Linked DNA regions of Homo sapiens: regions 2 and 3 are each linked to region 1. Evidence: fine-mapped expression QTL. A gene starts in region 1. Each other region holds a variant in brackets. All regions are shown on one strand. Distances are between the middles of the regions. Region 1 holds the start of PLS3 (plastin 3). Region 2 overlaps PLS3 (plastin 3). Region 3 overlaps PLS3 (plastin 3).

The links.
Region 2: its variant is fine-mapped to the expression of PLS3 in pancreas (GTEx, PIP above 0.99).
Region 3: its variant is fine-mapped to the expression of PLS3 in whole blood (TOPMed, PIP above 0.99).

The regions. Positions count from the first base shown.
Region 1 is chrX:115,555,859-115,566,172 of GRCh38, reverse strand. PLS3 (plastin 3) reads right to left here and starts at 4,999. Exons shown (of 16, transcript NM_005032.7): 1 at 4,913-4,999. PLS3-AS1 (PLS3 antisense RNA 1) reads left to right here and starts at 3,442. Exons shown (of 3, transcript NR_110384.1): 1 at 3,442-3,547; 2 at 3,643-3,769. RefSeq lists enhancers at 1-79, 3,450-4,225.
Region 2 is chrX:115,582,490-115,592,803 of GRCh38, reverse strand. All of the region lies in intron 1 of PLS3 (plastin 3), which reads right to left. Among named protein-coding and RNA genes, the nearest start is that of PLS3-AS1, 25 kb to the right of the region's middle. The variant A/G (reference allele first, on the strand shown) is at 4,379.
Region 3 is chrX:115,599,025-115,609,338 of GRCh38, reverse strand. The region is part of intron 1 of PLS3 (plastin 3); the gene reads right to left. Among named protein-coding and RNA genes, the nearest start is that of PLS3-AS1, 41 kb to the right of the region's middle. The variant G/A (reference allele first, on the strand shown) is at 5,608.

The sequences.
Region 1 (10,314 bases):
TTTAGTGTTTCTATGATACACTGCTGCAGTACTTTGAATTTATATAGCACCTGTCTGCTTAAAAGCCAAGGCTTCACGTTTCTCACTTATCCTTTTACCATGCCTGTGAAATATGTAGATTGGAATCACATGGCTTAAAAATAAAGTGAAACCCAGATATGACCACAGAAAATTTCAATGAGTTACTTAAGATCATCTATCTGTCCAGACTGCAAAGGACTAAAAGACCCTAAATTCTATGCTCAATGCTTTTCCAATAAACAACACTACCTCCTTATTATCAAATACGTTTCTAAACTTTTAAGAAAATGTAAGGTTTCTCATATTATAAAATCAGTAGGCTTAATGCACCAAAAATCCCTGTCAAGGAATTAAATAAATGGCACCTCTTTATTTTAAAGAACTAACATTAGTCATGGAATAACCCACTGGTGATCACTTTCCTGAATAGTCATCAATTTGCCAACAAAGTATTTAGCTTGGATCAATGCAATTGCATCAAAGTTTGAAAAGTCAACTGATAAGTGAAATAAGCCAGATTATGAATATTTGAAAAAATAAAACCCAGCAAACCAAAAAGCTTGAGCAATCCTCTCTTTTTATAAACAAAAGCATGAATGGTGTCTGGCACATGTATGTACTCAATTAGTTATTAATATAATAATTTTAAATGACTTTCCGAAGGTCAAATTATGAGTCAATGGCAGAGCACTATCTAGAATCTAATTCCTCTGAGGGCAAGTTCAATGATTTACTTAAGATAATCTATCTGTCCAGACTGCAAAGGACTAAAAGACCCATGCTAAAATAATTAGTATTTTCATTTTTGTATACTAACAATACTTCTTCATCCCTAAAACAGTTTATACTCACTAATATTTATCTTCCAAGTGTCAAGACTAAGGCAAAATTTGGTATTATTAAATTTATCGTGAATCTTCTGAAATTGTCTCACCTCCGTAACTAAAATAAATTGGCCCAAGTATGATCAGATCTTCTAAGACTGACATTTCACGATTAGACTGTTTCCATAACTTTAACCAAAGCGCTCTCATAACTAAAATCAGCTAGTCATGACCACTGGTATATAAAAATCTTCCAACATTGTAATGTATCCAAAAAGCTTTGAAACCTCCAACACACTGAATATACATTATATGGTATATCACTGTCTAAAATAATACAGACTCAAAACATGACCCAGCTGACTTCTTCTAAATGAGTTGTATTATTTTCACAGATCAAAAATTTTGCCTTCTGGATCACTCTTCACCAAAAGAAAAATTGCCATATGACCAAAGACAACATGATTCTAAAAACAGATACCCCATTGTTGTCATGTATTGAGAGATATTCATTTTCAAATTTTATTTTATACCAGCTACTTTCATAATCTGTACCAAACATCAAAAAAGAAACAGTTCAGCTTATACATTCCACATAGATTATGCTAGATCAAACACAACAGCAAACTCATGAATTTATCATATGTGCTAAGAACACTGTCAGTACATTTCATGAAAATCCAAGTAGAAATAATGCCTAAAACAGAATATGGGATAATGGCAAATGGACTTTCTTCTTGTACCCTCTCAGTGTCACCAAAAAGAACCACTTTGGTGCTCAAGCACCATGGCCAAGCTGCCCTTTTATTTTCAGTAACAGAATTCTGTTCTCCTGGGAGAAAAATCTCATTGGGTTTCTGATAGTGCCCTAGATACTGACATTCTGCCAGTATAAACAGTCACAGTCAAAGTCTAATGTGCGTGTAACCACTTGTGGAAGAGGCTTAATCTCACCCAAATTATTACTCACTAGTTATAATTAATCCTTCTACCCAAAATGCCATAAGCCTAGTCATTTTTATCAATTGAATCTAAATGGTTACATCAGACTAGAGACTTTGGACTTCAATGTTGATCGTCTGTATTAAGTCAAGGCAAAGTGTTATTTATTTATTAATAGCTCCCCACCTCAGGTAAAGGGGTTGCTATCTGCTAGATCTAACAGTAAAAATCAAGAATTTGACTCCCAGCCCCCTAATTTCAATAAAAATTTGGGCTCATTAGATCATACCACCAAAAAAAGTCAGCAATATTGGGGGTGGTGTTCAATGAGTAGGCATCCCAAGACAATGAAAAGCTGTGGACTAGAGCCTAGCGATGATTCTGTTTAGACATGATTTCACAATACTTAAAAAAGAACTTATCCCCCTACCACTGTAACCTAGTTGAGTGGTAATAACTTCCTTTTTTTGAGGTTAAACATTTATTATTTCGATCTAAAATTATATTATCACCTCACTTCCACTAGAGGGGTCTATCTACCAGTGTAGTTAACTCTAGTAACTCAGGTGCACCTTAAATCCATTTCCAGCTCATCTGTGCCACAAGGCTAGCCTTGGGGTCAGAACAATGTGCTTTAAGGTTGTTCTAGTTTTCAGGCTCAGAAACGGATGAACAGCAAGAAACTGGAGTGCTCCGGTCATTCAGAGGCTGCTGCAGGAGACAAAGGGTTTTTGGCAAAAGAATACAAAGTCAGAATCTCTTAAATATCTTCTGCCCTAGTTGTTTTCAAGACTGAATATGCATCAACCAGGTCCGTTTTTTCTTTTTTTTTCAGATAAGCAAAGCTTTTAAACTCCTGACCTCAGAGGCTCCTCTGCCTCTCTTCTATACTCTGTAATATATAATCTGAATAGCCAAATTGCCACGTTTTCCCAGAAGCAACCTTAACTTGGGCCACTTGGGCGGGTATAGGTCAATATGGGAAAGTTGTTTCAGTGTCCTCTCATTATTCTACCAAACCACTGACAGGCAAAAACCCAACCAACTCGATGTATCAAATTTACTATCCACTGTTTTTGTGCATGATTTCTAATCCAGTTAATTGAAAACCACAAATAACTGGTGGTTAATTTTAGTCAAGAGGTTATTTACTACCTTTAAGTAGTTGCCTAAAATAGGGAACAGTTCAATTAGAATATAGGCCAGACCAAGGAAGATGAACAGAGCCTTACTTTTTAACACTATCTTGTGGGATTTAGCTTCAAATCTAGTATTCAGGGACAAAATGAGGCATGAGTAATAGGATGACTTCCCTAGAAAATAATTAGTAAGATGTTTTTTAAATTTAGAAAAACCATGAGATTGAAGAAGAGAGGAGATACATGTCCCAGCTCACATATATTTCAATCCCTTATTTTAAAAACAGCTCCTGTTTTTGTTTTGGATAAAAGCTGAGCACCAAATTCCCTTTCTGGTCCCCTCATCCAAAATCCTAGTAGACTTCCTTGATTAGAAGCTAGTTCACACTCCTCCCCACCTTTTTTTTTTTCAAACGTAGAGGTGGTTTTTGGAATATGGGCCTCAACCATTACATTCCAGCTTTAAAGTAAAAAGACGTCATGTGACCATCAGAGACTTGGGGCACGTGATTCCAACTGGTATGTGTGGGGCTCCAGCCACTTAGTTGGAATTCACCATGAACTGCATCTCGAGGATCAAGTTTAGGCTCCCCAGTCCATTGTGACATCCAGCAAAGTGGAGTAAGTGCTTGCCCCTCAATGGTTTTTACTTTTCCCTACATTTTCTACCTACTGTTAGCCAGGCTCCCTTCCCTCCTCCCAATCCCTCTTAACAGGCCGGGCGCCCCCAGCATCCCGTCTGTCTGACGCTAAATGGCGAGGCTCTCCAACCCACTTAGCTCCAAGCTCAACCTTCTGCAAAAGTTCAACCTTCTGCACCACTGGGGATATCGTGCAGCTCAGGTGAGAGGCAAGGAGCATCGCATAAGGCTAGAGTCAGATGCCATTAACCCCCACTCCACCTCCCGGGCTGGGATCATCTTACGTCCCGGAGCCCGGCGGTCGGAACCGCCAGCACACTGGAGCAGCGACGGCGGCAGCAACTTTGGGACTGGCGAGAAGCCAGGGCGGGGGTGGTCGGCGTCCCCGGGCCTCTCATTACAGCGCTTAAGTACTGCGGGTGGAGAAAAGTAAACACAGGCAAGTGCAGCTGTGCGGGGAAAGGGCGGGGGGGTAGACTATTACCTCCCTCCCGTCGCCCCTTTGCCTCTCCCTCTCCAAGAGTCGGGAGAGGTCCGGGACTGCCGCCGCCCCGACCGCGCGCCCGGGGCCGCAAAGTCAAAGGAGCTGAAAAAAGGACAGGGGGTGTGGGGCCAGGGGAGAACGGAAAGGTACTGTCCTACTAGCCCAGAGATGTTCTCCTACTGAAAGGAAAAAAAGTGCTTACTCATAGGGAGACTAGGTGCGTTCGCGACGCCCTCGCTAAGGACAAGGGAGGGAAGCAGGCAGAAGGCAGGCAACCCAAACCTCGTGCCTTCCCTCGGCCACGGCCCCCCCTCTCCAGAGCCCCAGGGTCGGCTTAAGCCAGCCAGGTCACCCGAGGCGGGCGTGTGGGGGCTGGAGGAGTAGCAGGCTGCTGGCTCCGGGATTTCCTGAGTCCGGGCGGGAGGGAAGAGGGGATGGCAGTAGCTGGAGAAGGACGACAGAGGGAAGTTGTGCGCTCCCTTTCCACTTCGGGGCCGCAGCCGCGGAGGGGAATCAGGGCAAGGGCTGGCGTCTAGGACTCCAGCCCAAGACTGGCAACAAGTTAAGAGCAACTAGTAAGAAAACACCACTTAATACAGTGAAGTGCAGAAAACGTGTCTGCGGCGGATGCTAGTAGGGAAACTCCCCGTCACTCACACCCATTTCGGTTGCGACCGATCGCCCGGGCGCCCGAGGGCTCCAACTGAAATTTCTCCGACCTCCCTCTCCCCCAACCCCCGCCCCACGGTGCGCCGCACGTTCCTGCTGAGCTTAACCGAGATGCTCTCCCCGGGACCCACTCCTGCCCACGCCCAGGAAACCCGCTCCCCTAGTGCCCGCCGGCGCCTACAAAGCACTTACGTAAAGTCGCAGAGTCCTGGGTCTGGCCCGACTGCCGCCGACCAACCCACTCAGACAACTTCTGCACCTCGGAATCTTTGCAGCTGTGGCTCTAAAGCCAGCGCTCCCTCCCCTCCTGCCAGCCCCCTCCGCCCCTCGGCCGCCGCCATTGGCTCGGGTGGTGCTAGCAGTCGGCCTGGGAACCAGGAAGGGGATTGGGCCACGAGCCTGTCACATCAACTGGGTGGGGATCCAGGAAAATAGGCACGGGGATGGGCACCCAGGAGGGATAGGGACTGCAACTCTGCTGCAGGGAGAGGAGAATGGTCCCCAGCGCCTGAGTCTCCCCTTCCTACTTGGGCTAAGAGGAAGTTAGAAGTCCAACGTGCCTGGCTCGGAGTACACATTCACACAATCTTGTGGGATTAATAAAAAGATGAAAAAGTTGGGAACAAGAATTTGAATGCCACCTATATAAGTCTATGGGGGAGGGGTACAGTTTCTCCCAGAATCGTGAGAAGAATAACGGCATGTTGGGGAACATTCCTAATTACATCTGCAACAATCAGTCCAGGTGCCAAAGGGTGCAGAGGGAAACATCAGCAATCATTCCTTTCCTTAAGAAGTCAAGGGAGAAGAATATGGGCAGGGCAGGGCCCTCAAGCCTTTGGCCTCATGCCAAGTAAATTGTTAGCCCACATCACCTGTCTGGTATGTTTGTCCATGCGGAGAGGGGTTGAGAGGAGGTGGTTGGAAGTACATTGGTTCCACTCTTTTGACCGGAAATGGGTATCAATTCTCATCAGTCTCCTTTCACCAGAGAAAATTTGGAGACATGTTACTACTCCCCAGACTGCCATTTCTTCTCCTTCTCTGCCCAGGAGATGGCTTCCACGTCATAGCTGACCTCTTTCATTAATACACGTGGAGGTTATCTGCATTCCAAACCTATGGTTCATCGTATATCCAAAATCAACTCAGAGAGCCAGAGTTTGAGGGATTTTGCAGGGTCAGGTCAAGAGACTGACTTGTGGGATAGCTGTAGAAGAAAAAGTCTAAGCCCTTTCCTGTTCCAGTCGTAACCATTTTGTTGAGGAAATGTGTGCTTGGAAAGTTCTGTCAACATTTAAAATTAGTTCAATTAAGTCGCATTTTACATGTACCAGGAAAAAATGCTGAGAGGCTTTAAAATGGAATGTTCTTGAAAAGGAACCCCTATTTCATCTGCCATTATGAATTTCCTTAGAGAAATTAATCCGTAGTGAGTGCCAAGGCTTCTTAAAAGGGAAGAACTTGGGGAGTTCATATATTGCCTAAAGGCTAGACTAGCAGAGGACTTGGCACGAGGAAAAAGCCTTGTTAAATATTAATTAATGATTAACCAACTGGAAGAACTTATGAAAGGCACAGGAAGGTGAAAAAGAAATGGGAGGGCAATCATGCTTTCACAAACATTGAATTTCTGTTATGGGAGATTTTCTACTGGTTCAGGTTTGGGCCAGCACAAAAATACTGATTTCAACATGTTGGCGTTGGATTGAACATGGAGCCAGTGCATTGCCACACACATTTACAGTAAGCTCCCAAATGAGATTTCTAGCATTCAGTAATTGGCCAAAGGTTTGGTGTGACTTCTGGAATTCTTTACAAAAAATTTTTAGATACAGGAAATAGGCTTTTTCAGTTTTCTACCTTTTATGGTGTCTGTCGGTCACCGCTGAAGAGCTTCCACCTGCTCTTAAACTTAAAATTACAGACTGAGCAATAGCATGAAGGGACTCTGTAAGCTAAATTTTCCAGTGCAGATATATTTGTCTCAATTACGTTGTATTCAATTTTAGTTTATTTTTCAAATTCTAGAATTTAAAGTAAAAATATTAAGAATCCTACGTATATGCTATTTACAGTTCCTGTTTTTAATTCAAAAAAGCTTACATTGGTCCGAGTAGGGTAGCTCACGCCTGTAATCCAGCACTTTGGGAGGCTGTGCAGTGGGAGGATTGCATGAGGCCAGGAGTTCAAGACCAGCCTGGACAACATAGCAAGACCTCATCTCTACAAAAAAAATTAATAAAATTTTTTAAAAGCTTAATAGAATCTATACTTTGATAAAAGTCTTCATTCACCACTATCACTGAGGATGTCAGAATTCAGTCAAGAAATGTCATTTTAATTGAAATGCAATAGTCCATAGTTTCAAAGCTGCAGTGTACCTAGCTGATGGCATTAGTTCTCATTGCCTCAGTAACTTTCCAACAGATAAAACACACCCTAAACACAGAAGCACCTATTTGGATGCTAGCTGAGATTCCTGTTTAACAAGCTCCACTATATAATCCAGGTAGAACTCCATTTTAATGAATACTATTAAGATACCCAGCCAGTTTGATGTAACTAAGCTACCTTTGTGTTGCCCAGAATCTAAAGGATCTTTTCAAATTTAGCATTTTGCTGGAAGAAAGGATCCTCAGGCTCAAAGCTCTTAAACAGCATTTCTTTATAATTTTTCATGCCATCAATTTACCTCATAGAGGATCATTCACGAAGTAACCCAAAGTTGATTGTTTTCTTATCTGTATCAAAAAGCCTGCACAGATGTTTGTCAGGGTTCCCTCCACCTGCTTATAGGCTTTAATTTATTTTGACAGTGACTTGCATAGTGCCTGACACATAGGAGTTCAGTAAATGTTTGCTGAACCAATGGTTATTTTATGTCTATTCTTGTTAAACAACAGCAACAAAAAGCTATTAATATATATAGGATTCTCACAGACCTTGTGAATCAGTAACCTAAGAGTTTTTACCTTTCCTTCCATTTCCAATTTTCGATCCTAATGCCTTTGTAATAAATCACTTAAAGTCAATATCACAAAATTTTGAAAACCATTTATTCTTCCTGTCCTCCGCTGATATCATAAGAAGGCGCCAATATCTCTCTTAGGTTTTTTGTCTGTCCAAACTACTTTTCTTTCCTCCTTTTGATACGCACATCCCCCTTTTTCTTGCTCTTTTTCCTATTGTTCTGCCCAACACTCTCCCCAGTCTAGCTCACAATGTATTATGTGTACATAGTCTAAAATTTTCCCTGAAATTTTCCTAGAGTAAGTTGTCAGTTTCCTCTTCTATCCATTTTTAATTCTTTATTCTTAACATGTCATTGCTGGTTTGAACTTTTTTTTTTTTCCTTGAGACAGAGTTTCACTGTTGTCACCTCAGCTGTAGTGCAACGGCACAGTCTCAGCTCATTGCAACCTCTGCCTCCCGGGTTCAAGCGATTCTCCTGCCTCAGCCTCCCAAGTAGCTGGTATTATAGGCACCTGCCACCACACCCGGCCGATTTTTGTTTTTTCAGTAGAGATGGGGTTTCACCATGTTGGCCAGGCTCCTCTCGAACTCCTGACCTCAGGTGATCCACCTGCCTTGGCCTCCCAAAGTGCTGGGATTACAGAGGTGAGCCACCGTGCCTGACCACTGGCTTGAACTTTTTATCCATTTTTTATTTTATTTTATTTTATTTTATTTTATTTTTTCTTCTTTTTCCTCACCCCGTCTGAGATAATTTTTATCATTTTTTTTAAAACCTCCTTTCTGTAGTCTATTAAAAAATGATTTTGCTGCATAAACTTTATATAAGCCAGGAATAACTTAAAGAATCTTGATCAGTTCAATACTAAATCATTTTTCTAACACACCTAATTGTTTTCTCAGTCTCTAAATGTAAAATTGTGTACTAATCTGTTTTAATTAATTGTATTTTATTTTATCAGATTATTTTCAAGGAATTATCCTTTTTTAAATCATCTTTTTAATTCATGGATAATTCTATTCCATGTTGTGATATTTTAGGTTCTTGGATTGATCCTAATCCCTCTTTTTATTCAGTGTGCTGTGAGATGACATTTTTATTAAAATTAAGTATGATTTTAAAGGTTTCTCTCATACTTAAAATATTTGGCATAGAGGAAATCTTGGAAGACCTGGACAATTATTAATTTTTTTTTGATCCATAGGATACAGATTTGAACAGTTATTACCACTGTTTATTAGTGGAGTGTTTTTATGTTTCCAACTCAAAATGTACACATGTATAGGACATGAATATTAATAGTGAATAGGCAATTGTCAAATATTTTTCAAACCTAAAGATTATTATGAATGTGAATGCCTGCTAATGCAGGCCAACTATCTTACACGCACATTCACATAAAGAAATTACTCTGACATGTCCAAGCTTATTTCAGATTTTCACTTGTTAAAAAAAAAATTATCAGTATCTGAGAATAAGAAAATTAAAAAATAAAAAACAAAAAATTAATTGAAGTCTCTTTAATAGGATTAGGACATATTTAATCAGTATGGACTTTATAATATGTAGATTTAACAAAGATCACTATCATCACTGGAAATGCTCAAAATTAAAGTGTCACCCTCCCCTCTCCCGACTTTCTGGGTGTTAAATATCTAATTAATCAATCAGATAACTATTATAAGCAACATAGAAAAAGTATGGTCTCAAAACACAACGAATTAATAGTCTAATATTAATTCAAGATCAAAGTCCACATAACTGTAATAATGAGAAAACAATTCAAGATAGAATATATAAGAAGCACCGTAGGTAGGCTGAAAAGAATGAGAATAATAGGGCTAAAGCAGTTGTAGAAGGCATCCTTTGTGCAATGGAACTTGAGCTAGGCTTGACAAAGATGGGTAAGACTTGATATAGGCAAGTAGAAATGAAAACCATTTTCATTCCTAGGAAGTGATAAAAGAAAAACTTCAGACAAATTAAATTTAACATAGTTTAATTGAGCAATGAACGATGGGGCAGCCACCCCAAACCAGACTAGGTGCAGAGAGACTCTGGTGCTGCCACATGTTCATAGAGAATTTATGGACAGAAAAAGAAAAGTGACATACAGAAAATGGAAGTGGGGTACAGCAATAGCTGGATTGGTTACACCTTGGCATTTGCTTTATTTGAACTCAATTTGAACAATTGGCTGCTTTTATTGGCCAAAACTCAGTAATTTTTACAAGTGAGGGTTACAGTGTGTTTACACATCTGTTTAGGTTACAGTTCACTATGTATGGAAATACTGTTTTTTTTTTTTGGCAGGGTCTCGCTCTGTCACCCAGGTTGGAGTGCAGTGGCACGATCATGGCTCACTGAAGCCTCAATTTCCCAGGCTCAGGTGATTCTCACACCGCAAGTCTCCCAAGCAGCTGGGACTACAGGCTCGTGCCACCACACCCAACTAATTTTTTTTTGTGGTAGAGACGCGGTTTTGCCATGTTGTCCAGGCTGGACTTGAACGCCTGGGCTCAAGTGATCCACCTGCCTGGGCCTCCCAAACTACTGGGATTAGAGGCCTGAGCCACCACACCCAACCAGGCTAAACTTAATTTAACATAAGAAAGCA
Region 2 (10,314 bases), 27 kb before region 1:
ATGAAGATAAGAGCAACTCCATCATATCGCAGTTCACTATTTTATACATGGTTGTAAGGCTTAAATGATTTAATATGTGTCATAAATTTAGATCATAGTCTGGCGCATGGTAAGTACTAGATACGTGATAACTGCTCTCATTATTGAAATTTGCCTTTAACTGGTCTAGCAATCTAATCAGTGAATTCCTAAATCAAGCAAGTGGTTAGTTGTGAGTGCCTTTTATGAGAGAGAACAATCAGTTGGAGCACTGGGCTAGGCTGAAGAGGCCGTTTCTGTGCTGACATAGGGCAAGTTCATAATTTGAAGGAAATGCAGCACAATGAAAGCATCAGGGTCTTAGGAGTCTGACAGACCTGTAAGTCTGTGTGACCCTGAACAAATTACTTAGCTTCTCTGAGCCCTGGGTTCATATCTATAACAATGGAGCTATTCCACATATTTCACAAGGTCCACGGGATGACCCAATGGGAAGATATAAATATGTAAGAGTGTCTGGGTCCAGCAAGGTACTCAGTAAGTGGCAGATATTATTTTCTTGTGTCTGGGATAAAGCATGCATAATGCCATCTGCTGCTGTAATCTACCTCATGAGAATGAAAGAAAGTGAGACAATAGATACTCTAGTCCTTCATAAATAATACACAACAAAGTATTTTATGATAGCATACCGAACTCTCAGCATAAGGAGGTGACTCACAGTGTGGGCACCTGTGAAAAGGAGCCCTCACCGGATAGTCCCCATTATGAGGCAGTGTTCTCCTGTCCTCGTCACTAACCACCATCAGCAGACACTGGGTTACATTTTGTCTCCTTCATGGAAGTGCTTTAATTTATTTCACCAATCACAAAACCTTCGTGAAATATCAAAAGGCAACACAATGCAGAAGAGAAGGAATACAATGGCAGGAGTCATAGGACATGTTTTTCCGTCTGTCTTTGTTGCTGACTCACTATGTGAATGAAATGAAGCTTCTTCAACTTTTCTGAGTACCAAATTCTCCATTTCTAAAACAAGCATAGAACTATCTGCCTGTGGCCTGTCAGGGAATAGTAGGTAACTACCAAGCATTTTGAGCTAATTTGAAGAGTATGTGTTATCATGCATTTTTCAGACAGAGAAAACCAGGGCATAGGAAACTGCCTCAGGTAAGAAGACAGTATCAGTTTAGACCAGAAATGTTGGTTTTTCCCCAGCCTTACCTTTTCTTCAGCCACACCTGTTGCCTCAAACCACTGAGACGGGTCTGTCCCAAATGCTACGTAACCACCCTTTTCAGATATGTAGCAGTATCATTGAGGAAATTAATGTTTTAAATATGTAATTCTTCATTTTAGAAGACAGCTTTCTCTCGTTTCAAGTTTTACAGGTCGTTATAACAGTACTACTTAAAAACTGTTTTTCTGACTTTTCCTTTCCTGGTCATCTGGAATATACATGCTCTCCAGCTTTCCAAACTCCAAGGCTAATCTTCGATCAGCATGATCTGTCAACACCGAGTTACTAATTCTAAAGTCACTTCACCTTAATACAATAGCATATATTTCTACTGCAAAGCATTGTAGTTAAAGTTCTAGGAATAGACATGCCCTTCAAAAGGGCACATCTTCTACTTAGTAAATGCTAGGTAGGACATAAAGACAGTTTTGGTTTGTTTTTTTTTTGAGACGGAGTCTCGCTCTGTCACCCAGGCTGGAGTGTAGTGGCGGGATCGTGGCTCACTGCAAGCTCCACCTCCCGGGTTCATGCCATTCTCCTGCCTCAGCCTCCTGAGTAGCTGGGACTACAAGCACCCGCCACCACGCCCGGCTAATTTTTTTGTATTTTTAGTAGAGACGGGATTTCACCGTGTTAACCAGGATGGTCTCGATCTCCTGACCTTGGGATCTGCCCGCCTCAGCCTCCCAAAGTGCTGGGATTACAAGGCGCGAGCCACCGCGCCCGGCCAGTTTTTTGTTTCTTTTATTTATTATTATTATTTTTGAGACGGAGTCTCGCTCTGTCGCCCAGGTTGGAGTGCAGTGGTTCGATCTCAGCTCACTGCAACCTCCGCCTCCCGGGTTCCAGCTATTCTCTGGCCTCAGCCTCCCGAGTAGCTGGGATTACAGGCACCTGCCACCATGCCCGGCTAATTTTTGTATTTTTAGTAGAGACGGGTTTTCACCATGTTGGCCAGGCTGGTCTAGAACTCCTGACCTCAGGTGATCCACCCACCTTGGCCTCCCAAAGTGCTGGGATTACAGGTGTGAGCAACTGTGCCCGGGCTAAAAGACAGTTCTACCACATCAGTAATTTAACCAGTTTTAGCATGTAAACTAAACTTCTATCTCACTCACCATCCGAGGTGTGTGTGGGTGTGTGCGTGACGGGGGCGGTGGGGAGCGTGTCTGTGTATGTGCATGTGTGTGAACAGGATCTCGGTTTTTACTATGGGTAATGAACACTGGTTTGGGAATGCAAGACGGTGGCAAGGGTTCTGCAATAAATTCTACATTTTCATCAGCAGGCCACAGAATGAAAACAGCTTTTAAATTGCATCCCAAATTCATCAAAATGAATGCTAAGGAAAGCCGACGGAAACCAAATTCTCACTGTCACTCTCTCTAGATGTTACAAACAGAAACCATACAGTTAAGAGTTCAGGCCGGGCTGGGCGCGGTGGCTCAGGCCTGTAATCCCAGCACTTTGCGAGGCTGAGGTGGGCGGATCACCTGAGGTCAGGAGTTCCAGACAAGCCTGGCCAACGTGGTGAAACCCCGTCTCTACCAAAAATTCAAAAAAGCCAGATTGGTGTTGTGCCCTTGTAGTCCCAGCTACTTGGGAGGCTGAGGCAGGAGAACAGCTTGAACCCCAGAAGTGGAGGTTGCAGTGAGCAGAGATTGCACCACTGCACTCCAGCCTGGGCCACAGAGACTCCATCTCAAAATACAAACACAAAGTTAAGAGTTCACACACATGCACTTGTGGACACACTCCCACCCCAGGGTGGAAAAAAGAGGTACAACCCGAAAAGTTATGGGAGTTTCACATAAGTATCAGTGGAATATGTAGTTGTAACACAAAAGCTAGGCATAGTATTTTTAAAGTCTCTTACAACTTTCATCCAGACGTCATGCTCTCCACCACACCCAGTACTAGGTATACTTTCCATGTGTGACACGTACATTGGAGGCCTCTCCCACTGTGCTTAATGACACACCTCAACAACACTCATCTATTTTCCTTTCATGAAACAGTTTTTTTTCCATCTTCATGACTTATAAAAACAAAGCGAACAAACAAACATAGTGAGTGAAGCATAGAAGCAAAGGGATCTAACATATAAAACAGGCAACAAGTTTACATTCAAGAAACTACTACTGTAATTTTGGGACTATATTGGAAAGTTTAGGAAATTCATACCAGGCACAGCATTAGGTATATAAACTTGTTGCATGGATGTGTCAATTTTAATAATCAAGTCATATATGTAATCATTTTTTTCATATTTGGGGAAAAATAAGTCAGAATATATCTTAATTTCAATATTCTGGCCAGGCGTGGTGGCTGGTGCTTGTAATCCCAGCACCTTGGGAGGCAGAGGTGGGTGGATCACTTTAGCCCGGGAGTTCGAGAGCAGCGTGGGCAACATGGCAAAACCCTGTCTTTACAAAAAAAATACAAAAAAATTAGCTGGGCATGGTGGCTGTCGCCTGTAGTCCCAGCTACTTGGGAGGCTGAGGTAGGAGGATAGCTTGAGCCCAGGAGGTGAGCTGTGATCTTGCCACTGCACGGACAGAGCAAGACTGTCGCAGAAGAAAATATAAAATTCAATATTCCAAGGGCTGTCTCCCTGATAGTATTTATTAGCTCTTTATTTGTGTAACTAAGTAATCAAAATTTTAAAATAAATAAAAGAAAAGGTCAAAATACATCGAACTACACATGGGGCAATGAATGAATTTAAAAGACATACATGTTCAGTTCGTAGCTAATAAAAACATACAAAGGAATAACTCACATGCTCTACAATTTTCTATCCTGAGGGTCTCTCTCTCACTCAAAAAAAGAAAAGAAAGGAGAGGGGAATAGGAGAAAAGTGGAGGGGTGGGGCAAAGGGATAAGGAGGGAAACAACAACAAAAAACCCAACTCAGCAGTTCCTAAACTTTTTGGCCTCAGGATCTGAGGATCCCAAAGAGTTTGGTGACACATGGGTTAGATCTATCAGTGTATTTGTCACATCAAAAATTGCGACTACGAAACTTTTAAGATATTTATTTGTTTAAAAATAAGAATAAGCCCATTACATGTTAACATAAGCTTTTTAATGAAAAATAACTATATTTTCAAAAAAAGTGTAGTGACAAGGGTGGCATTGTTTACATTGTTGCAAATC[A/G]CTTTAATGTTTAACCTAGAACAAGAAAGCTGGGTTTTCATATCTGCTTCTGCATTCAATCTTTTGCAATACCGGTTTTGGTTCCAGTGCATGAAGAACATCTGGCCTCCTACAGATAAACTGTTGTAAAAAGAAAGAAATACTTTAAGAGGCTTTCCAGATACTTACAGATATTCTTCAATACTACACCAAAACTCGAGAGAAGTGGTAGTTTTTCAAAGGTTGGTTGCAATGTAGAGTCTGATACAATATCAATGATTTTTTCAAAATCTATTTGTCTGTCTTGCACTTAGAATGGGCCTTTTACCCATGCTTGATTTTGTAACATCATACATTAGTTATTTGGAAAAATATTGTTTCAGTAAGTTATGTGGGTCTTCCAAATGCTGATACATTTCATTATACAAAATCTAACACATTATTTTCATTAATTATACTGTCGATTTCACTAGAAAAGCCTAAGTATTGATCGGATAAAATGGTGACCAATGCAAGTTCTCAAAAATTTGAATTTTGCTTGAAAGCTCTAATTTTAGCATTGGCAACAAATACTCTTAGTTGTTTCCCTTGCAGTGAGAGGCACACTTGGTTCATTTTTTAAAAATAAAGTATCTGTTAGATACTCGGGTCTGAATAATCAGTTAATTCAATCTTTCAAAGTAAAACTGGTTGTCTTTTTTTTTTTTTTTTTGAGACGGAGTCTCGCTCTGTCGCCCAGGCTGGAGTGCAGTGGCGCGATCTCGGCTCACTGCAAGCTCCGCCTCCCTAGTTCACGCCATTCTCCTGCCTCAGCCTCCCAAGTAGCTGGGACTACAGGTGCCCGCCACCACGCCCAGCTAATTTTTTGTATTTTTAGTGGAGACGGGGTTTCACCGTGTTAGCCAGGATGGTCTCGATCTCCTGACCTCGTGATCTGCCCGCCTCGGCCTCCCAAAGTGCTGGGATTACAGGCGTGAGCCACCGCGCCCGGCCTGGTTTTCTATTTTTAAAAAGGCAGCTAGTTTAGCTCACAACTCAAACAGCTGCGCAAGTGCTTTCCCTCAAGACGATCGTCATATATCCATATGCAGCAGAAATACTTTATGGGTATGTCTTATCTCATCACACACAATATTTAAAAAGATGCATACCTAAGAATTGAGATTTAATACAATTATTTTTTCCTGCTTCATCAAGTACATTTGTAAATGAAATGCATGTTGTAAGATTTTTTTCTAAAGGTGATGGTATGGTGCTGAGGAATACAGTGGCTATCACTACAGTGTGGGGCCACTATCTTGATTCAGCAGCTTTACCCACTACTGCTTTTGCATCATCAGTGCAAATGTTAACACAGTGAAAAAACAAATAACAATTTAGTTTTATCATGAAAGTAATTTTAACCCCCATGAGCCCATGTGCCACACTTTTTGAAAACTGGTGCTTTATTCAGTAATATTTATGAAGGAGCCATCTAATTTTAGAGACAGCAAACCTATAAAGTATGCAGGTTTTAACAAGAATTTTCAAACTGAAAATAAAATTAACAAAATTACATATCTAGGTTTTAACCTGAGTTCTGTACTTTTGAACTGTGAAAAGAAAAAACATCTCTTTAATATCAATTCAGGCAAGACAAAAATCTACAGCTTATCTACTTCAAAGCACATTTTGCTGAATCAGGTTCATGTCTAAAAGGCAAGACTTTATCATGACAGTCATGACATAACATGTACAATGTTGTTTAGAAACTTTTTTTTTTTTTTTTTGAGACGGAGTCTCACTCCATCCTCCAGGCTGGAGTGCGTGGCACAATCTTGGCTCACTGCAACCTCCCCCTCCCGAGTTCAAGCGATTCTCCTGCCTCAGCCTCCCAAGTATCTGGGACTACAGGCACCTGCCACCACACATGGCTATTTTTTTTTTTTTTTTGTATTTTTAGTAGAGACCGGGTTTCACTATGTTGGCCAGGCTAGTCTCGAACTCCTGGCCTCATGACCTGTCCGCCTCAGCCTCCCAAAGTGCTGGCATTATAGGTGTGAGCCACAGCGCCCGGCCTGTTTAGAAACTTTTAATAAAATTTTTTAAAAGATTAAGAAAGGAAATATATGTTACAAAATGAGTTAACATCCTACTCATACACAGCAAATTAGATTATTCTTGGCCGGGCGCAGTGGCTCACGCCTGTAATCTCAGCACTTTGGGAGGCCGAGGCAGGTGGATCACCTGAGGTCTGGAGTTCGAGACTAGCCTGACCAACATGGAGAAACCCCGTCTCCGGTAAAAATACAAAATTAGCCGGGTGTGGTGGCACAGGCCTGTAATCCCAGCTATTCGGAGGCTGAGGCAGGAGAATGGCTTGAACCCGGGAGGCGGAGGTTGCTGTGAGCCGAGATCACACCATTGCACCTCAGCCTGGGCAACAAGAGCAAAACTCCGTCAAAAAAAAAAAAATTAGATTTTTCTTCTGATAAGCGGTTAAGAATTTCTTTCTCTTGCATAAAGTAGCACAGAAAGGGTTTAAAAGTAAAACTCCATATGAAATGCAAACACTACTATCTTAAAATATTAAAAACTAAGAAGTATACTATAGTATTTATCGGTAAAACAATATGCGGATTATTTTAAAGCAAATCTCAAAAAAGGGGAGAGCAAAGATGAAATAAGAACATGAAATACTGGTAATTGTTAAAGCTGGGGGTTTTTAATGCTATTTTACATTATGTATTTGAATAATTCCATAAAAATAAGTTTTTAGACCGGGTGCAGTGGCTCACACCTGTAATCCCAGCGCTTTGGGAGGCTGAGGAGGGCAAATCACGAGGTCAGGAGTTTGAGATCAGCCTGGCCAACATGGTGAAATCCCGTCTCTACTAAAAATACAAAAAATTAGCTGGGCGTGGTGGCGGGTGCCTGTAATCCCAGCTACTTAGGAGCCTGAGGCAGGAGAAAATCTTGAACCCAGGAGGCGGAGCTTGCAGTGAGCTGAGATTGCACCACTGCACTCCAGCCCAGGCCACAGTGCAAGACTCTGTCTCAAAAAACAAACAAACAAAAAAAAAGACTTTTTAAAATTTCTGCCTACTTATATAAAGGACTTGGGATTTTGGAGAGCAAAATTAAATTTCATGGCTCATATTTGTTCAATAGATAAATACCGATTAAGCATATATTCTGTAAAAGGCACTATACTAGTTGGCATCAGGAAATATGAGGATTTCTGCAACATGCTTTTCATATCCTCAAGGGGCTCAGAGTGGCTGTGTCTATATATATAATCAATTCCCTAAAATGGGTATAATGCTTCCACTATGACCTTTCTAAGCGGTATTTCTTTATGTCATTACCAAGTACAACTTGATCCAATTGAATTGGAAGTCACTATAATGCAATTTTAAGAAAAAAAGAAAGGGAAATGGCGTATGAAAGAAAATACAAAAAGGAAACAAAAAATAAGAAATGAGACTTTCCCTGGTTTCCCTCTATAAAAGGAAACTAACAAGAGATGTGAGCAAATATGGGCATGACCACATCATTTTTCCACCACAACCCATCATCTTATTTCACTTCAGGACAGGAACCATCATGTCATCTCCTTTGAGTCAGCTCTTGTACTACTCACATAGGCAAAAATAACTGAGCAATACATTCATTTTCCACAGGGAGCATTAAATACATTTAAGTATTCTATAATTTTTCAAATGACAGAAGATAGTTTTACAAATGCCACGACTTTACATTAAATTCCAGGGCTACTAGGTCCTTTCACCACCTCCCCCAATACAAATTAAGCCCATCCTCAGGAGGAAATCCACAAGTTAAACTAGTAACATTCCTCAAGAGGCCTAAGTATAACACTGATAAATGAAAACTGAAAATGATCATCACAGAATAAAATATTTACTTTACTTATCAGCTTCTAGCTTCTTGAACTAGATTTCAAACAAAATGTCATTTTTTCCCTATTCAAGCTGTAGATAATATGTGCAAAAGTTCTCAAAACTCATTCAGTGAAGATCTTTAAAAGCTGAGTGATAGCATTAAATAATTTTAAATTGCTCTACTGTTTTCGTATTTAATAAGCTCTAAGAGGGCAGTGATTTTTTGTCTGTTTTGTCCAGCAATCTATTTTCAGCTTATAGAACAGTGCCTGGCATACAGTAGGCACTCAACAAATATTTATTAAATGGATGTATGTGGAAGACATAGCATCCTAAAGGAATTAACTCAGTGTCATATATTATAGTGGTTTATTTCATAGTCAAGAATAAACTTTCAGCATTTGTCTTTTTAATGCAAAGCAAATAAATAAGGATAAAAGGCATCTACTCTTGTTCCATTGGCTAACTCTGTAAGATACGATCATTCCTGAAAGCTAATCTGGCCAAACACATGGTGGTTACATCTTCTAATAGCACCAAATCCATGCTCAGATTTGGTAATTGAAACGAATTTCTAAATTCTGCACCTTTAGAAAATAAATTCATTTGAGAGAAAATAAGTGGAGTGGAAAGTATAAAGAACTCTCAGTGTATCAAGTTTTTCCTCAAACTTGCCACACACACCCTCCCCCAAAAAAAAAGAAAAACATCTCACTGTCAAGAGTCAAAACATCACTGCTTTAGCTTTCCAAACTTTAAAACAACTACTTTTTGACCTCACAAGGAATAACAAAACCTTCAAAAGAAAGAGCCGCTTTAGCATTTCCTGCCAGCCTGCCCTAGTCTAAGATTAACCTCGTCAGTTTTTAGGAAGACATATAAAATCCCCTTTAAATGACTAATTCAGATGAAGTAGTAACATGAAGCCATAGCTTTTAAGACGCTGGCTTCTACTTGCTACCAGATGTTGCCATCACTTCAAAGCGTTAAATACATCCATGAAGAATTTCAGATATATTTGCATGTGAAATATTTTCTGACTTCCACTATCATTGTGGAGTCACATTCACGGAGAAAAATAGTTGACTCGCTGTTTAATAAAACATCCTTAAGATTCCATTATTCACTTTGAGAGCCACTCTATGTCAGTATAATTCTTCCATGTAATTCCTGCAAGCACATATATACACTTTCAAAACACAATACAAATTAATTCCATTTCATTGGGAGTTTGCCATGAATGGCCTGCTTTATACTTCTTTTGAATTTGGGGTGGGAGGGAACCTTTCACAAAAAGTCCAGCTGAAAAATCCAAATTTTTGCATGTGTATACTTTTGGTATTTCTTTTTCAGACAAGTAGACTGTCCTGAGCTTTACATAATATAGTTTAGAGTTCCTTTGCCAGGTGTAATTCATCTATTCCACTATGCTTTCTGTTTCTAATCACCACTCTTCTCTGATTAATTTCTTTGGCTATGTTGTCATCAAGGTTTTATTAGCTTTTTCTTTTCTTTTCTTTTTTTTAAAGACAGAGTCTCCCTCTGTCACTCAGGCTGAGTGCCGTGGTGCAATCACAGCTTACAGCAGCCTGAACCTCCCCCAGGCTCAGGTGATCCTATCACCTCGGCCTCCCGAGTACCTGGGACCAGATGCATACCACCATGCCTGGCTAATCTTTTTGTGTTTTTAGTAGAGACGGGCTTTCGCCACGTTGCCCAGGCTGATCTCAAACTCCTGTCCTCAAGTGATCCGCCCGCGTCGGCCTCCTAAAGTGTTGGGATTCAGGCGTGAGCTACCACGCTTGGCCTATTAGCTTAATTTTTTAAAAAAATGTTTAAATCTCCAGAGAGAGTTTAATTCAGCAACAATGGTTGCTATTTTCTACACATAATGGTCATTGTTAAGTCTGGCCCAACACAGAATCCTGAACACAATGTAGATTTATCCTTAAGATTGGCTGCAAAATACCATGGTCTCATAAAGTATTAATAGTTATATGCCCTTACCATTCAAATGTATAGGAGCTTCCCTACAAAATTTGTTTATTTTGTTTTATTTCTACTGAGATGCCTCAA
Region 3 (10,314 bases), 43 kb before region 1:
CATAATATTCTTGATTTTACCTCTTGGCACACAATATTTATGATCTGAACCTATATGGAAAAACTTTGCTGATCCTGGCAATAAAGAGAGGAGGTCTGTATCACAGTAGATAATTTCCAAATGCAAACCTATTATAACAATAATTTTGGACAAAGAAAAATGAAAATGATTACATGTTCCTTTCTCCTTTTTTGTTTTGGGTTTTTTCTCTCTTCTGATTTATTTTTTTGGTAGACTTTATTTTTCTTTATTTCTTTCTCTTTTTTTGTAAAGACAGAGTCTTGCCACCTTGCCCAAGCTGGTGTCTAACTCCTGGGATCAAGGGATCCTCCCGCCTCGGTCTCCCAAAATGCTGGGATTACAGGTGTGAGCCACCGTACCCGGCCAATAGACATTATTATTAGAGTAGTTTTAGGTTCACAGCAAAATCAAGCAGAAGTTACAGAGAGTTCCCAAATACAGCCAAGTGTTGCTTAAAGACAGAGATGTGTTCTGAGAAATGCATTGTCAAGTGATTTTGCCATTGTGCAAGCATCAAAGAGTGCACGTACACAAACCTAGATGGTATAGCTTACTACACACCTAGACTATACGGTATGGCCTATTCCTCTTAGGCTACAAATGGCACAGCAGGTTACTGTAGTAAACACTGTAGGCAATTGTAATGCAATGGTATCCGTATATCTAAACATAGAAAAGGTACAGTAAGAATATAGTATTATAATCTTATGCGACTACTATCATACATTCGATCAGTCATTGACCAAAATATCCTGTACCTGAGTGGTACGTTTGTTACAACTGATGAACTTACATCATTACCACCCTAAGACTCTGGTGAACATTAGGGTTCACTCTTAGTGTTGTATAATCTGTGGGTTTGGACAAATGTATAATGACATGTATCCACCATTAACATATTACATAGAGTAGTTCCACTGCCCTAAAGATGTTGCCTTTCCAAAAAAATATACTACGGGTTAAATTTCACAAACTATACAAAATACATTTTGAGATCTTACATTTATCCCTTTTAGACATTTTATTAAAAGGCAACAAATTACTCACCAACTTATGTTTTGGCCAAGAAGTGTAACACTCAGTATAGAGAGGTAGGGGCTGGAAGTGGTAGGGAGGGATTCATAAGAGAGCTGGGCTACATCTATCTTTTTCACAGAATTGTTGCTATTTCTAGAATTTATCACAGCCCCTGGCACATAGTAAGGCACTCAATAAAACAGAACTTTAATAAAATTAATCCCTTCAACAACTATGCACCAAGTATTATTAATACATTATACAAATTCATTTGCATATTAATTTCCTAAACCCTCACAATAGTCCTATGAGCTAAATATTCTAATCTCCTTTTTTTCCTATTAGAAGACCTGGGCTCTCAGGACTGGAATTCACACTCAGGTTTCTCAAATCCTGGAGAAGTTTTAAAATGACCATATGATGCTATTAGCTAAGTTTTTACCATAATGTAACAGACACATACAGTGACTGGTGTTTTAAAAATTAAATAAAACCATCAGCCAGGCGCACTGGCTCACGCCTGTAATCCCAGCACTTTGGGAGGTGGAGGCGGGTGGATTGCTTGAGGTCAGGAGTTCGAGGCCAGTCTCACCAACATGGTGAAACCCTGTCTCTACTAAAAATACAAAAAGTAACCAAGTGTGATGGCGGGTGCCTGTAATCCCGGCTACTCGGGAGGTTGAGTGAGGCAGGAGAATCGCTTGAACCTGGGAGGTAGAGGTTGCAGTGAGCGGAGATCGTACCACTGCACTCCAGCCTGGGTGATAGAGTGAGACTCTGTCTCAAAAAAAAAAAAAAAAATTAAATAACACTAGACTCTTTAAAAAAGATATAAAACAAAGCTGGCCTATTCATAAACTTTTCTTATGTATGATATCAAGATGCCACTAAAGATGGATAACTTCTCAGTAGACAGGTTGGATGAAAATACCTTTCAGAGTAATCTCAGGATCTATGAGGGAAAGAAAGTTCTTCAGTTAGTAATGAAGTTAGGCTTTGTGGGTTTTTTTTTTGTTGTTGTTGTTGTTGTTTGTTTATTGAGACAGGGTCTTACACTGTAGCCCAGACTGGAGTGCAGTGGTGAGATCACGGCTTACTGCGACCTTGACTTCCCAGGCTCCTCCCTCCCAGGTGATTCTCCCTCCTCAGCTTCCCAAGTAGCTCAGACTATAGCCGTGGGACACCATGCCTGGCTAATTTTTGTATTTTTTGTAGAGATGGGGTTTCACCATTTTGCCCTGGCTGATCTTGAATTCCTGGCTTCAAGCAATCCACTCACCTCAGCCTCCCAAAGTGCTGGTATTACAGGTATGAGCCACCACGCCCAGGCCTGAAGTTAGGCATTTTAAAGATTAAGAATAAAAAGAACTGCAATCCCAGCACTGCGGGAGGATTGCTTGAGGCCAAGAGTTCAAGACAAGCCTGGGAAACATAGTGAGACCTCGCCTCCAAAAAAATTTTTTTTTAAAATTCGTAAGTTAAATGCAAACGAATAGTAGTAATTCTAAAAATATTCTGTTTCACTAATATGTTCAACACTCCCCATTACAAAAATACGACATAGGATTTATTCCAATTTTCTTCACCCCTTTTAAGCAATCATGTTTTTAATAAAGAATTATTACACATCTCCATGAATCACACACCAAGGAGAACAATGGCACAGAAAATTTAAAAGTAAGACCATCTCAGAAATCTAAAACATGTGGCCTCTCTCCTTTATCTCTAAAGGTCCTTTCCAGTTTGGGCAGATAGTGAGTCAGTAATAATTTAAAGTATGTGGGTAAAAAACAACTAAAACAAACCTATACAACTGAGCTTACTCTCACACTACCATATCACTTCTATGCAAAAGAAAATTAGGTCTGGGTGCAGTGGCTCATGCCTGTAATCCCAGCACTTTGGGAGGCCAAAGCGGGCAGATCACTTGAGCCCAGGAGTTCGAGACCAGCCTGGCCAACGTGGTGAAACCCTGTCTCTACCAAAAATGCAAAACTTATCCAGGAGTGGTGGTGCGTGCCTGTAATCCCAGCTACTCTGGAGGTTGAAGTGGGAGAATCACTTGAGCCTGAGAGGTCGAGGCTGCAGTGAGCCATCAGTGCATCACTGCAAAAAAAAAAAAAAAAAAAAAAAAAGAAAAGAAAAGAAAAAAGAAAGAAAAAAAAAAGAAATTAGATAAGATGGTTCTGGACATAAACCATTCCTGCCCCCCGCCCCCCTTATCCCTGCTGACCAGTTGGGTTCTGATTAAATCCTGTAGAAATCTCTTTCTCCCCAACCTGCCCCTCCCCGCTACTTCTCAAACAATTTTACCAATATTTTAGACATCTGCTATACACCTAGTTCTTGCCCTCAAGGAATTTACAATCTGCGAAGCAAACATGAATAATTACAATATGACATAAAGTGAATTAGTGACTGCAATAAAAGGTACAAATATCCATTTTTTTAGAAGAAAAAAGTCTCTAGAGACTTTAAGGATTATTAATTTCTTCTCAGAGTGGCCAGAAACGCAGTTCTTTTTTTCTTCCTATAAAATTAGCAAGTGCTGGCTCATGCCTGTAATCCCAGCAATTTGGGAGGTGGAGGTGGGCAGATCGCTTGAGCTCAGGAGTTCGAGACCAGCCTGGGCAACATGGTGAAACCTCGTCTCTACCAAAAATACAAAAAATTAACTGGGCATCGTGGGTGGTGGCACATGCCTGTAGTCTCAGATACTTGGGAAACTGAGGTGGGAGGACCGATTGAGCCCGAGAGGTAGAGGATGCAGTGAGCCATGAGAACGTCACTGCACTCCAGGATGGGTGACAGAGCAAGACCCTGTCTCAATAAAAAAAGTAAAAAATAAAAATGAATTAAGAAATGCTTAGATCTCATAGAAATAATTTTAGGGCACCAGTTTAGTCCAAAAATTAATCCAGTGCATTAAACATATATTTTAAAATTTTCAAGTTTCTTATTTCTAATTGCCTTTTAAAAAGCCTAAAGTGACTTTGCATATGTAACTCAGATTTCCCATCTATCAGAGACATTAAAGAGATACACTTCAATGAGAACAAAAAGAAGGAATTGGAACATGCACATATCCTTAAAACCGTATTTCCAGACAAGGTTGTTTCAGGATAACAGAATAGTTTAATGCAGGACTTTCCAATTTAAATAAACCCATATTCATTTATTGACAGTTATTTGAAAGGAAATAAAGAAATGCTACTCTGAAGTACCTGGGCCAAGACTAAAAAATATAAAGCCAAATTTAAAAAGCTCACAATATATGCTCTAGCTGATACAATTGTACATTTTGCCATTTGAAGCTTAAAATAAAGTTGTTTAATGTAGATTTCTTTATGCCACTATGAATTAAAAAATGGTCTGTCCTTAAGACTACTCATAGGTACTTGATGGTGTCTTTAAGGAAGTCAAGCAGTAAAGTACTATCTTGAGAGAAAACATCACATTAAGTAACTTGGAAATGAGTGAAGATATTAAAAAATAAAGATCTTACAAATTAAAATAACAGAAGCTCTATTCCTCTTCATGGGGCATTCATTGTACTATAGGACTTTTTTCCCTTAAAGTTACTAAAACATCCCGGATGGGTTCACAAAGCAAAACACAAGATTTGACATCAATACTGCCCTGTAGACACTTCATTTAATCTCAAGTACCAGTACACCAAGCTGTTGTACCGCGCCCAAGGTTGTAGTATGTTTTAACAGAAAGATGTTGGACGTGAAATTAGAAGGCATCGATTATTGCTCTGGTTCTGCTATTCCCTAGTAATGTGTCCATGAGCAAGTTTAATTAATCTGTCTCAGCCTAAGTTTCCTCATTTGAAAATAGTGATAATAATACCTACTTCCCCCAGGTCCTAATGAAGATTACAGATGGTATGTATGACAGCATATTGTGAACTATGAAGTATTACATAGCAACTTCAAATCCTTCATGAAAGAAAATAGGGAATAAATGAATGCTTGGGTTAATTGTGAAGAGCTGTATAAATAAATATAAGGCATTAGTTCTACTAATAGCCTTTTACATGGGATAAATGAAAAGTTATCTCATCTCCCTATAATTACTGACTACAGAGTATAATAGGTCTCCCTCATATATAAAAATTACAAGTCTTTAGTCAAAGTAATTTAAGAAGGATGGGCCTAAAGGAAAACCTGTCAGTCACTTTTTATCCATGACTCAATTTGGTTCCTCCGTAAGGCCAGTTTCTAAACACAATTTAAAGAGCAGACAGGAGATATACAAACAAACAACAATTTTTCTTTAAATATTTTAGGATCACTTTTCAAAATAGCTAACAGCTTGTCAATATTGTCACATTCCTCCTAATTTGCAAATTTTTTCATGAGTACTAGAAAAAGGTGAAGAGAAAGTATTACTTGCTGAATAAAAGTTTAACCCCGATTTCACAATATGTGATTGACAGGCAAAAGGAAAAAAACCCTGATTTTCAAATATGTCCTCTTTCCCAGTCTGTCTTCCCACAAAAGTGGACTTTATGTGTTTATTTCTTTTTGAGACAGGGTTACACTCTGTCACCCAGGCAGTGGT[G/A]CAATCTCAGCTCAGTGCAGCCTCAATCTTCTGGGCTCAAACAATCCTCCTGCCTCAGCCTCCTGAGTAGCTGAGAATACAGATGTGTGCCACCAAGCAAAAGCGGACTTTATTTACATGATGAGAGAGAGGGAGAGAGAAAGAGAACTGACATTCAAAGAAATAGAGATATATTTTTCCTCCATTTAAACTCAGCAATTTTAATACTTATCAAAAATAAAACCTCCTGGAGTCTCTACGTTTTTCTGAATTCGCTCATCTGCAAAGCACTTTGATCTGTCCCAAATTCTGTTTCCTCCTTAGCTCCTATGCCTGCCATTTCTGTAAAGGAAAAGGGAAAGCTGTAGAAAAAAGCCAGCCCTTCTTCACTAAACATATAAGACACAGGAAAACAGATTTTCAAATAAGGGAGTAAAACAAAAGCAAACAAAACCTTGTTTGTTTGTTTTTTCATAAAAGGATATAGTGTACAATTGGGTATGAATTCAGGGCGTCACCCATAGAAGAATCTTATGCCTATGAAGTCATCTCTAATTACAGAGTTTGACTAACAATACTGCAATTATGAAACCACTCCACCGGCTCATTTAACTATACATAAACCCTAAACACAGATCTTTGCTGAGAAAGGTATACCTACAACTACCTGAAACTATTATTCAAATTCTGAAAGGTATTTGAAGGGGGACGGGGGTGCCTATTTTATCTCCTAAAGCACTCACTCACTTTAGGAATGCAGCTGACTGAATAATCTACTTATTCATCTGTGTCATTCAGTACCATGAGGTCCAGGAGAAAGAGAATGCACGTGGGAAACTCATCTGGGGGTAACCAACTTTGATCATAAACTTGATTTTTTTTTTTTTTAAATTGAAAGGCAGCCAAAAGATAAAAACAGGATATTCACCACAGGCTTCATCCCAGCCACTAGTATGGTAAATAGAATTGGAAAAGAGAAGCTCATTACTTAAATCAGAGACTGGGCAACACATACTTGAGGTCCTAAAATGAACAAGAAAGCAACAAAGAGGGGACAAAACATGGAAGAAATACATTATTTCACTATAAATGAAAATAAACAAGTTAGCCACCATTATGTGTGAACAGTTCAAGAATGATCAGAAAAGGGGTGTTGTCACCTTCCTCCATCCAAAACAGGCAGTGCTTTTGAACACCCACACTTTGCATACCTACCTTTACCAATAGAAACTGCCACCCTGCCACCTCCCTAGTTAGGTAAGTGAACAGCTCAACACTAGTCTCTAGCTTAGATGGGTGTGCAACACTGTGGGCTAAAACTCACCTATTCATACTATGATTACTAAAGCTCCAGTCTCATGTTTCCTAATGACTTTAGAAGATTCCCAGCTTGAATGTCTACCACACTCACCCACTTATTTATTTATATTAATCAAGCATTAACTTAAGGCTTAGTATGTACCAGGCACTGTGTTGGGTGCTCCAGATAAGAGACAATTAGGATCCAAATCCCCTTCTTTCTGGAAGAGCTTACTGTCTAGTGGGGGAAACAGATGGAAAAACAAAGATACAACATTAGTGCAATCATGCCATCACAGTCATATATACTAAATGGTAGGCGTCAGAAAAGTTTTTTCCGAGGTGAGGCTTGAACTCTGTCTTTGAGTGCAAGTAGGATTTTCTCAGATAGACATCCCCAGTAAGGGCATTCTCAGAGAGACATCACTGGTAAGGGTATTGTGCCTTGTGTTAGTGACAGACACACTCGCAGCAGCAGATCAGGGTCCAATTTAGAAGTGGCCAAGGGAGAAGGAAAGTCAGTGAGGACGATTCAAGTTAGGAAAGTCTAAGTGTCTCCAATCTAACTTACTGCCACATTATTTTCCCTGTTTTTTTCTAACTCTTTCTTCTGCCAAATCAGGTCTCGTTTTCAACTTTCCCACTTTCCTCTGTCTCCAGACTGCAGTTTGACCATAAAAAACAAAGGGAGGATCAGTCAACCACCCATCCCTCTGGATTCTTGCCTTGCAATATCTGAGATTCTTCCGTCATATCTGTTTATCACCTCATGTCTGGCCTACTCCACAAGTTTTTTTTTTATCTTTTTATATATTTTTTTTATTATACTTTAAGTTCTAGGGTACATGTGCACAACGTGCAGGGTTGTTACATATGTATACATGTGTCGTGTTGGTGTGCTGCACCCATTAACTCGTCATCTACATTAGGTATATCTCCTAATGCTATCCCTTCCCCCTCCCCCAACCCCACAAAAGTTTTTTTTTTTTTTTATCAGATCTGCCTGCTGTTCTGTCTTCCTCCAGTGCAATCTTTACACTGCTAATCTCCTGATAATCTCCTGAAGAGCGGATCTTATAAACATTCCATGCAAAAGGAGGTCCCACCTTTTTAGGACAGCATTCAAGGCCCTACACTTTTCTGACTTGACTTCTAGCTTTATGTCTGCCCATCTTTCCAATGCTACTTCCCATTATATGTACTACACCCTTGAACCCAACACTCTCAAGAGACCTTATTCCCCAAACAGGCCATGTATTTTCCCGCTTCTTCCACTCCCTGGAGAGACCACTGGGTCTCTCCAGTGGAATGCTCTTCACCCATCTATCTAGACACTTCAAAAGCCTATTTCAGGAAGTATCTTCAGATTGTCCGCACCCAAGATAAAATTTATCTTCCCAGTACTCTCACAGAACTGTGTTTCTATTACAGCTGGTTCTGGATTCTCCTCTATCAGTACCTTTTGTTTTATTCTGGTCTCTTCTGCTTTTCCTGTCTTCCATTAAGAACTTCCTCTCTCTCTATCTGCGTCTCATGCTTAGAATACTCTCCTCTATTTTTCCTCTCTCTCTATCCAAATTCTACTCACCCTTCAAGCAAGGTTCAGAAGCCTCATCCTCTCCCAAAGCACGTTTCCCAATGACTCCACCTCCCACTGATCTTTCTCTTCAACTCCCAGAGAATTTAGAATCTTGCCACAAAATTTTGAAATTTAATTATAGACTTCTCCCTATAGTTACATAAGTGGATATGAGGACAGTCAGTCTAACTGGGACTTCCATTGTCCTACTTGGTTCAGTTTATCTACCTTCTTTACATAGATTCTTAAACTTGGTCAAAGAGAACAATCTTCTTCAATAAAAGAAAATCCTTCTTTCACGAACAGCACACAAAAACTTGTGTAATTCTTTGCTTTGCAAGTCTCATTTCATGATTGTTTGTTTCTGGAGAACAGTCTAAACTTCACCTTTTACTCTCATTGCTGGATGTTGGTTACACAGGCATGGTTTACAAAATATACCAACTGAGGCTGAGGGTGGTGGCTCATGCCTATAATCCCAGTGCTTTGGGAGGCAGAAGTGGGAGAACTGCTTGAGGCCAGGAGTTTGGGACCAACCTGTACAACATAGCGAGACTCCTTCTCTTAAAAAAAAAAAAAAAATTAAATCAGCCAGCATGGTGGCCTGAGCCTGTAGTCCTAGCTACTAGGAAGGCTGGGGCAGAAGGATCACTGAAGCCCAGGAGTTTGAGGCTGCAGTGAGCTATGGTTGCCTGCCTCTAAAAAAATAAACATAAAAAATGAATAAAATACTCCAACCAACTGCAATGTTTAGAGGGAGTGAAAATTCCCAGTATTCCCAATATCCAGTGATCACAGCAATGAGAATTTGAAAGCTAAGAAGTCTGTAGAGTTCCATAACTTCATTCCCTAAATTGTATTAGGGAATAAACAAGTGCCTGGGATAGTCGTTGACTTTGCCCAGGACACAAAGCTGTGAAGCACAATTAAAAAGATGTATTTCTCAGCCAGGCGCAGTGGCTCATGCCTGTAATCTCAGCACTTTGCGAGGCCGAGGCGGGCAGATCACAAGGTCAGAGATCAAGACCATCCTGGCCAACATGGTGAAGCCCCGTCTCTACTAAAAATACAAAAATTAACAGGGCCTGGCTGCACGTGCCTGTAGTCCCAGCTACTCAAGGGGCTGAGGCAGGAGAATTGCTTGAACCCAGGAGGCGGAGGCTGCAGTGAGCCGAGATTGGACCACTGCACTCCAGCCTGGGCGACACAGCAAGACTCCACCTCAAAATAATAATAATAATAATAATAATGTGTTTCTCCAAGCATAGCTGGAAAAAAAAAAAAAAAGCAAAAGCATGTGTTGGAGGAAAGGTAATTAACTGTTTTTTCCCTCTTTCCTTTTTTTTTTTTTTTTGAGATAGAGTCTTGCTGAGATGTCCAGGCTGCAGTGCAGTGGCATGATCACTGCAGCCTCCAACTCCTGGCCTCAAGTGATCCTCCTGCTTCAGCACCTCCCACCCCCAGTAGCTAGGACTACAAGCATGCACCACCATACTCGGCTAATTTTTAATTTTTATTTCTTTTTTTTTTTTTTTTTTGTAGAGACAGGATCTCACTATGTTGCCAAGCTGGTCTAAAACTCCAGGGCTCAAGTGATCCTCCTGCCTCAGCCTCCCAAAGTGCTGGGATTACAGGCTTGAGCTGCAGTGCCCAGCCAATTAACTACTCTTCCCAGAAAAACAAAAACAAAGAGACTACACATTGCTTTGCAGAGAGAAGGTCCATGCCTAGTATATATAGCCTTTGGAAAATAACTTAAAAAGCTCCTAACAAATATGACCATGATATCGAGAAATAAGAACAGTTGCCAGAAAATGGAGATAGTAACCCCCTCCAGCTAATACTAACTT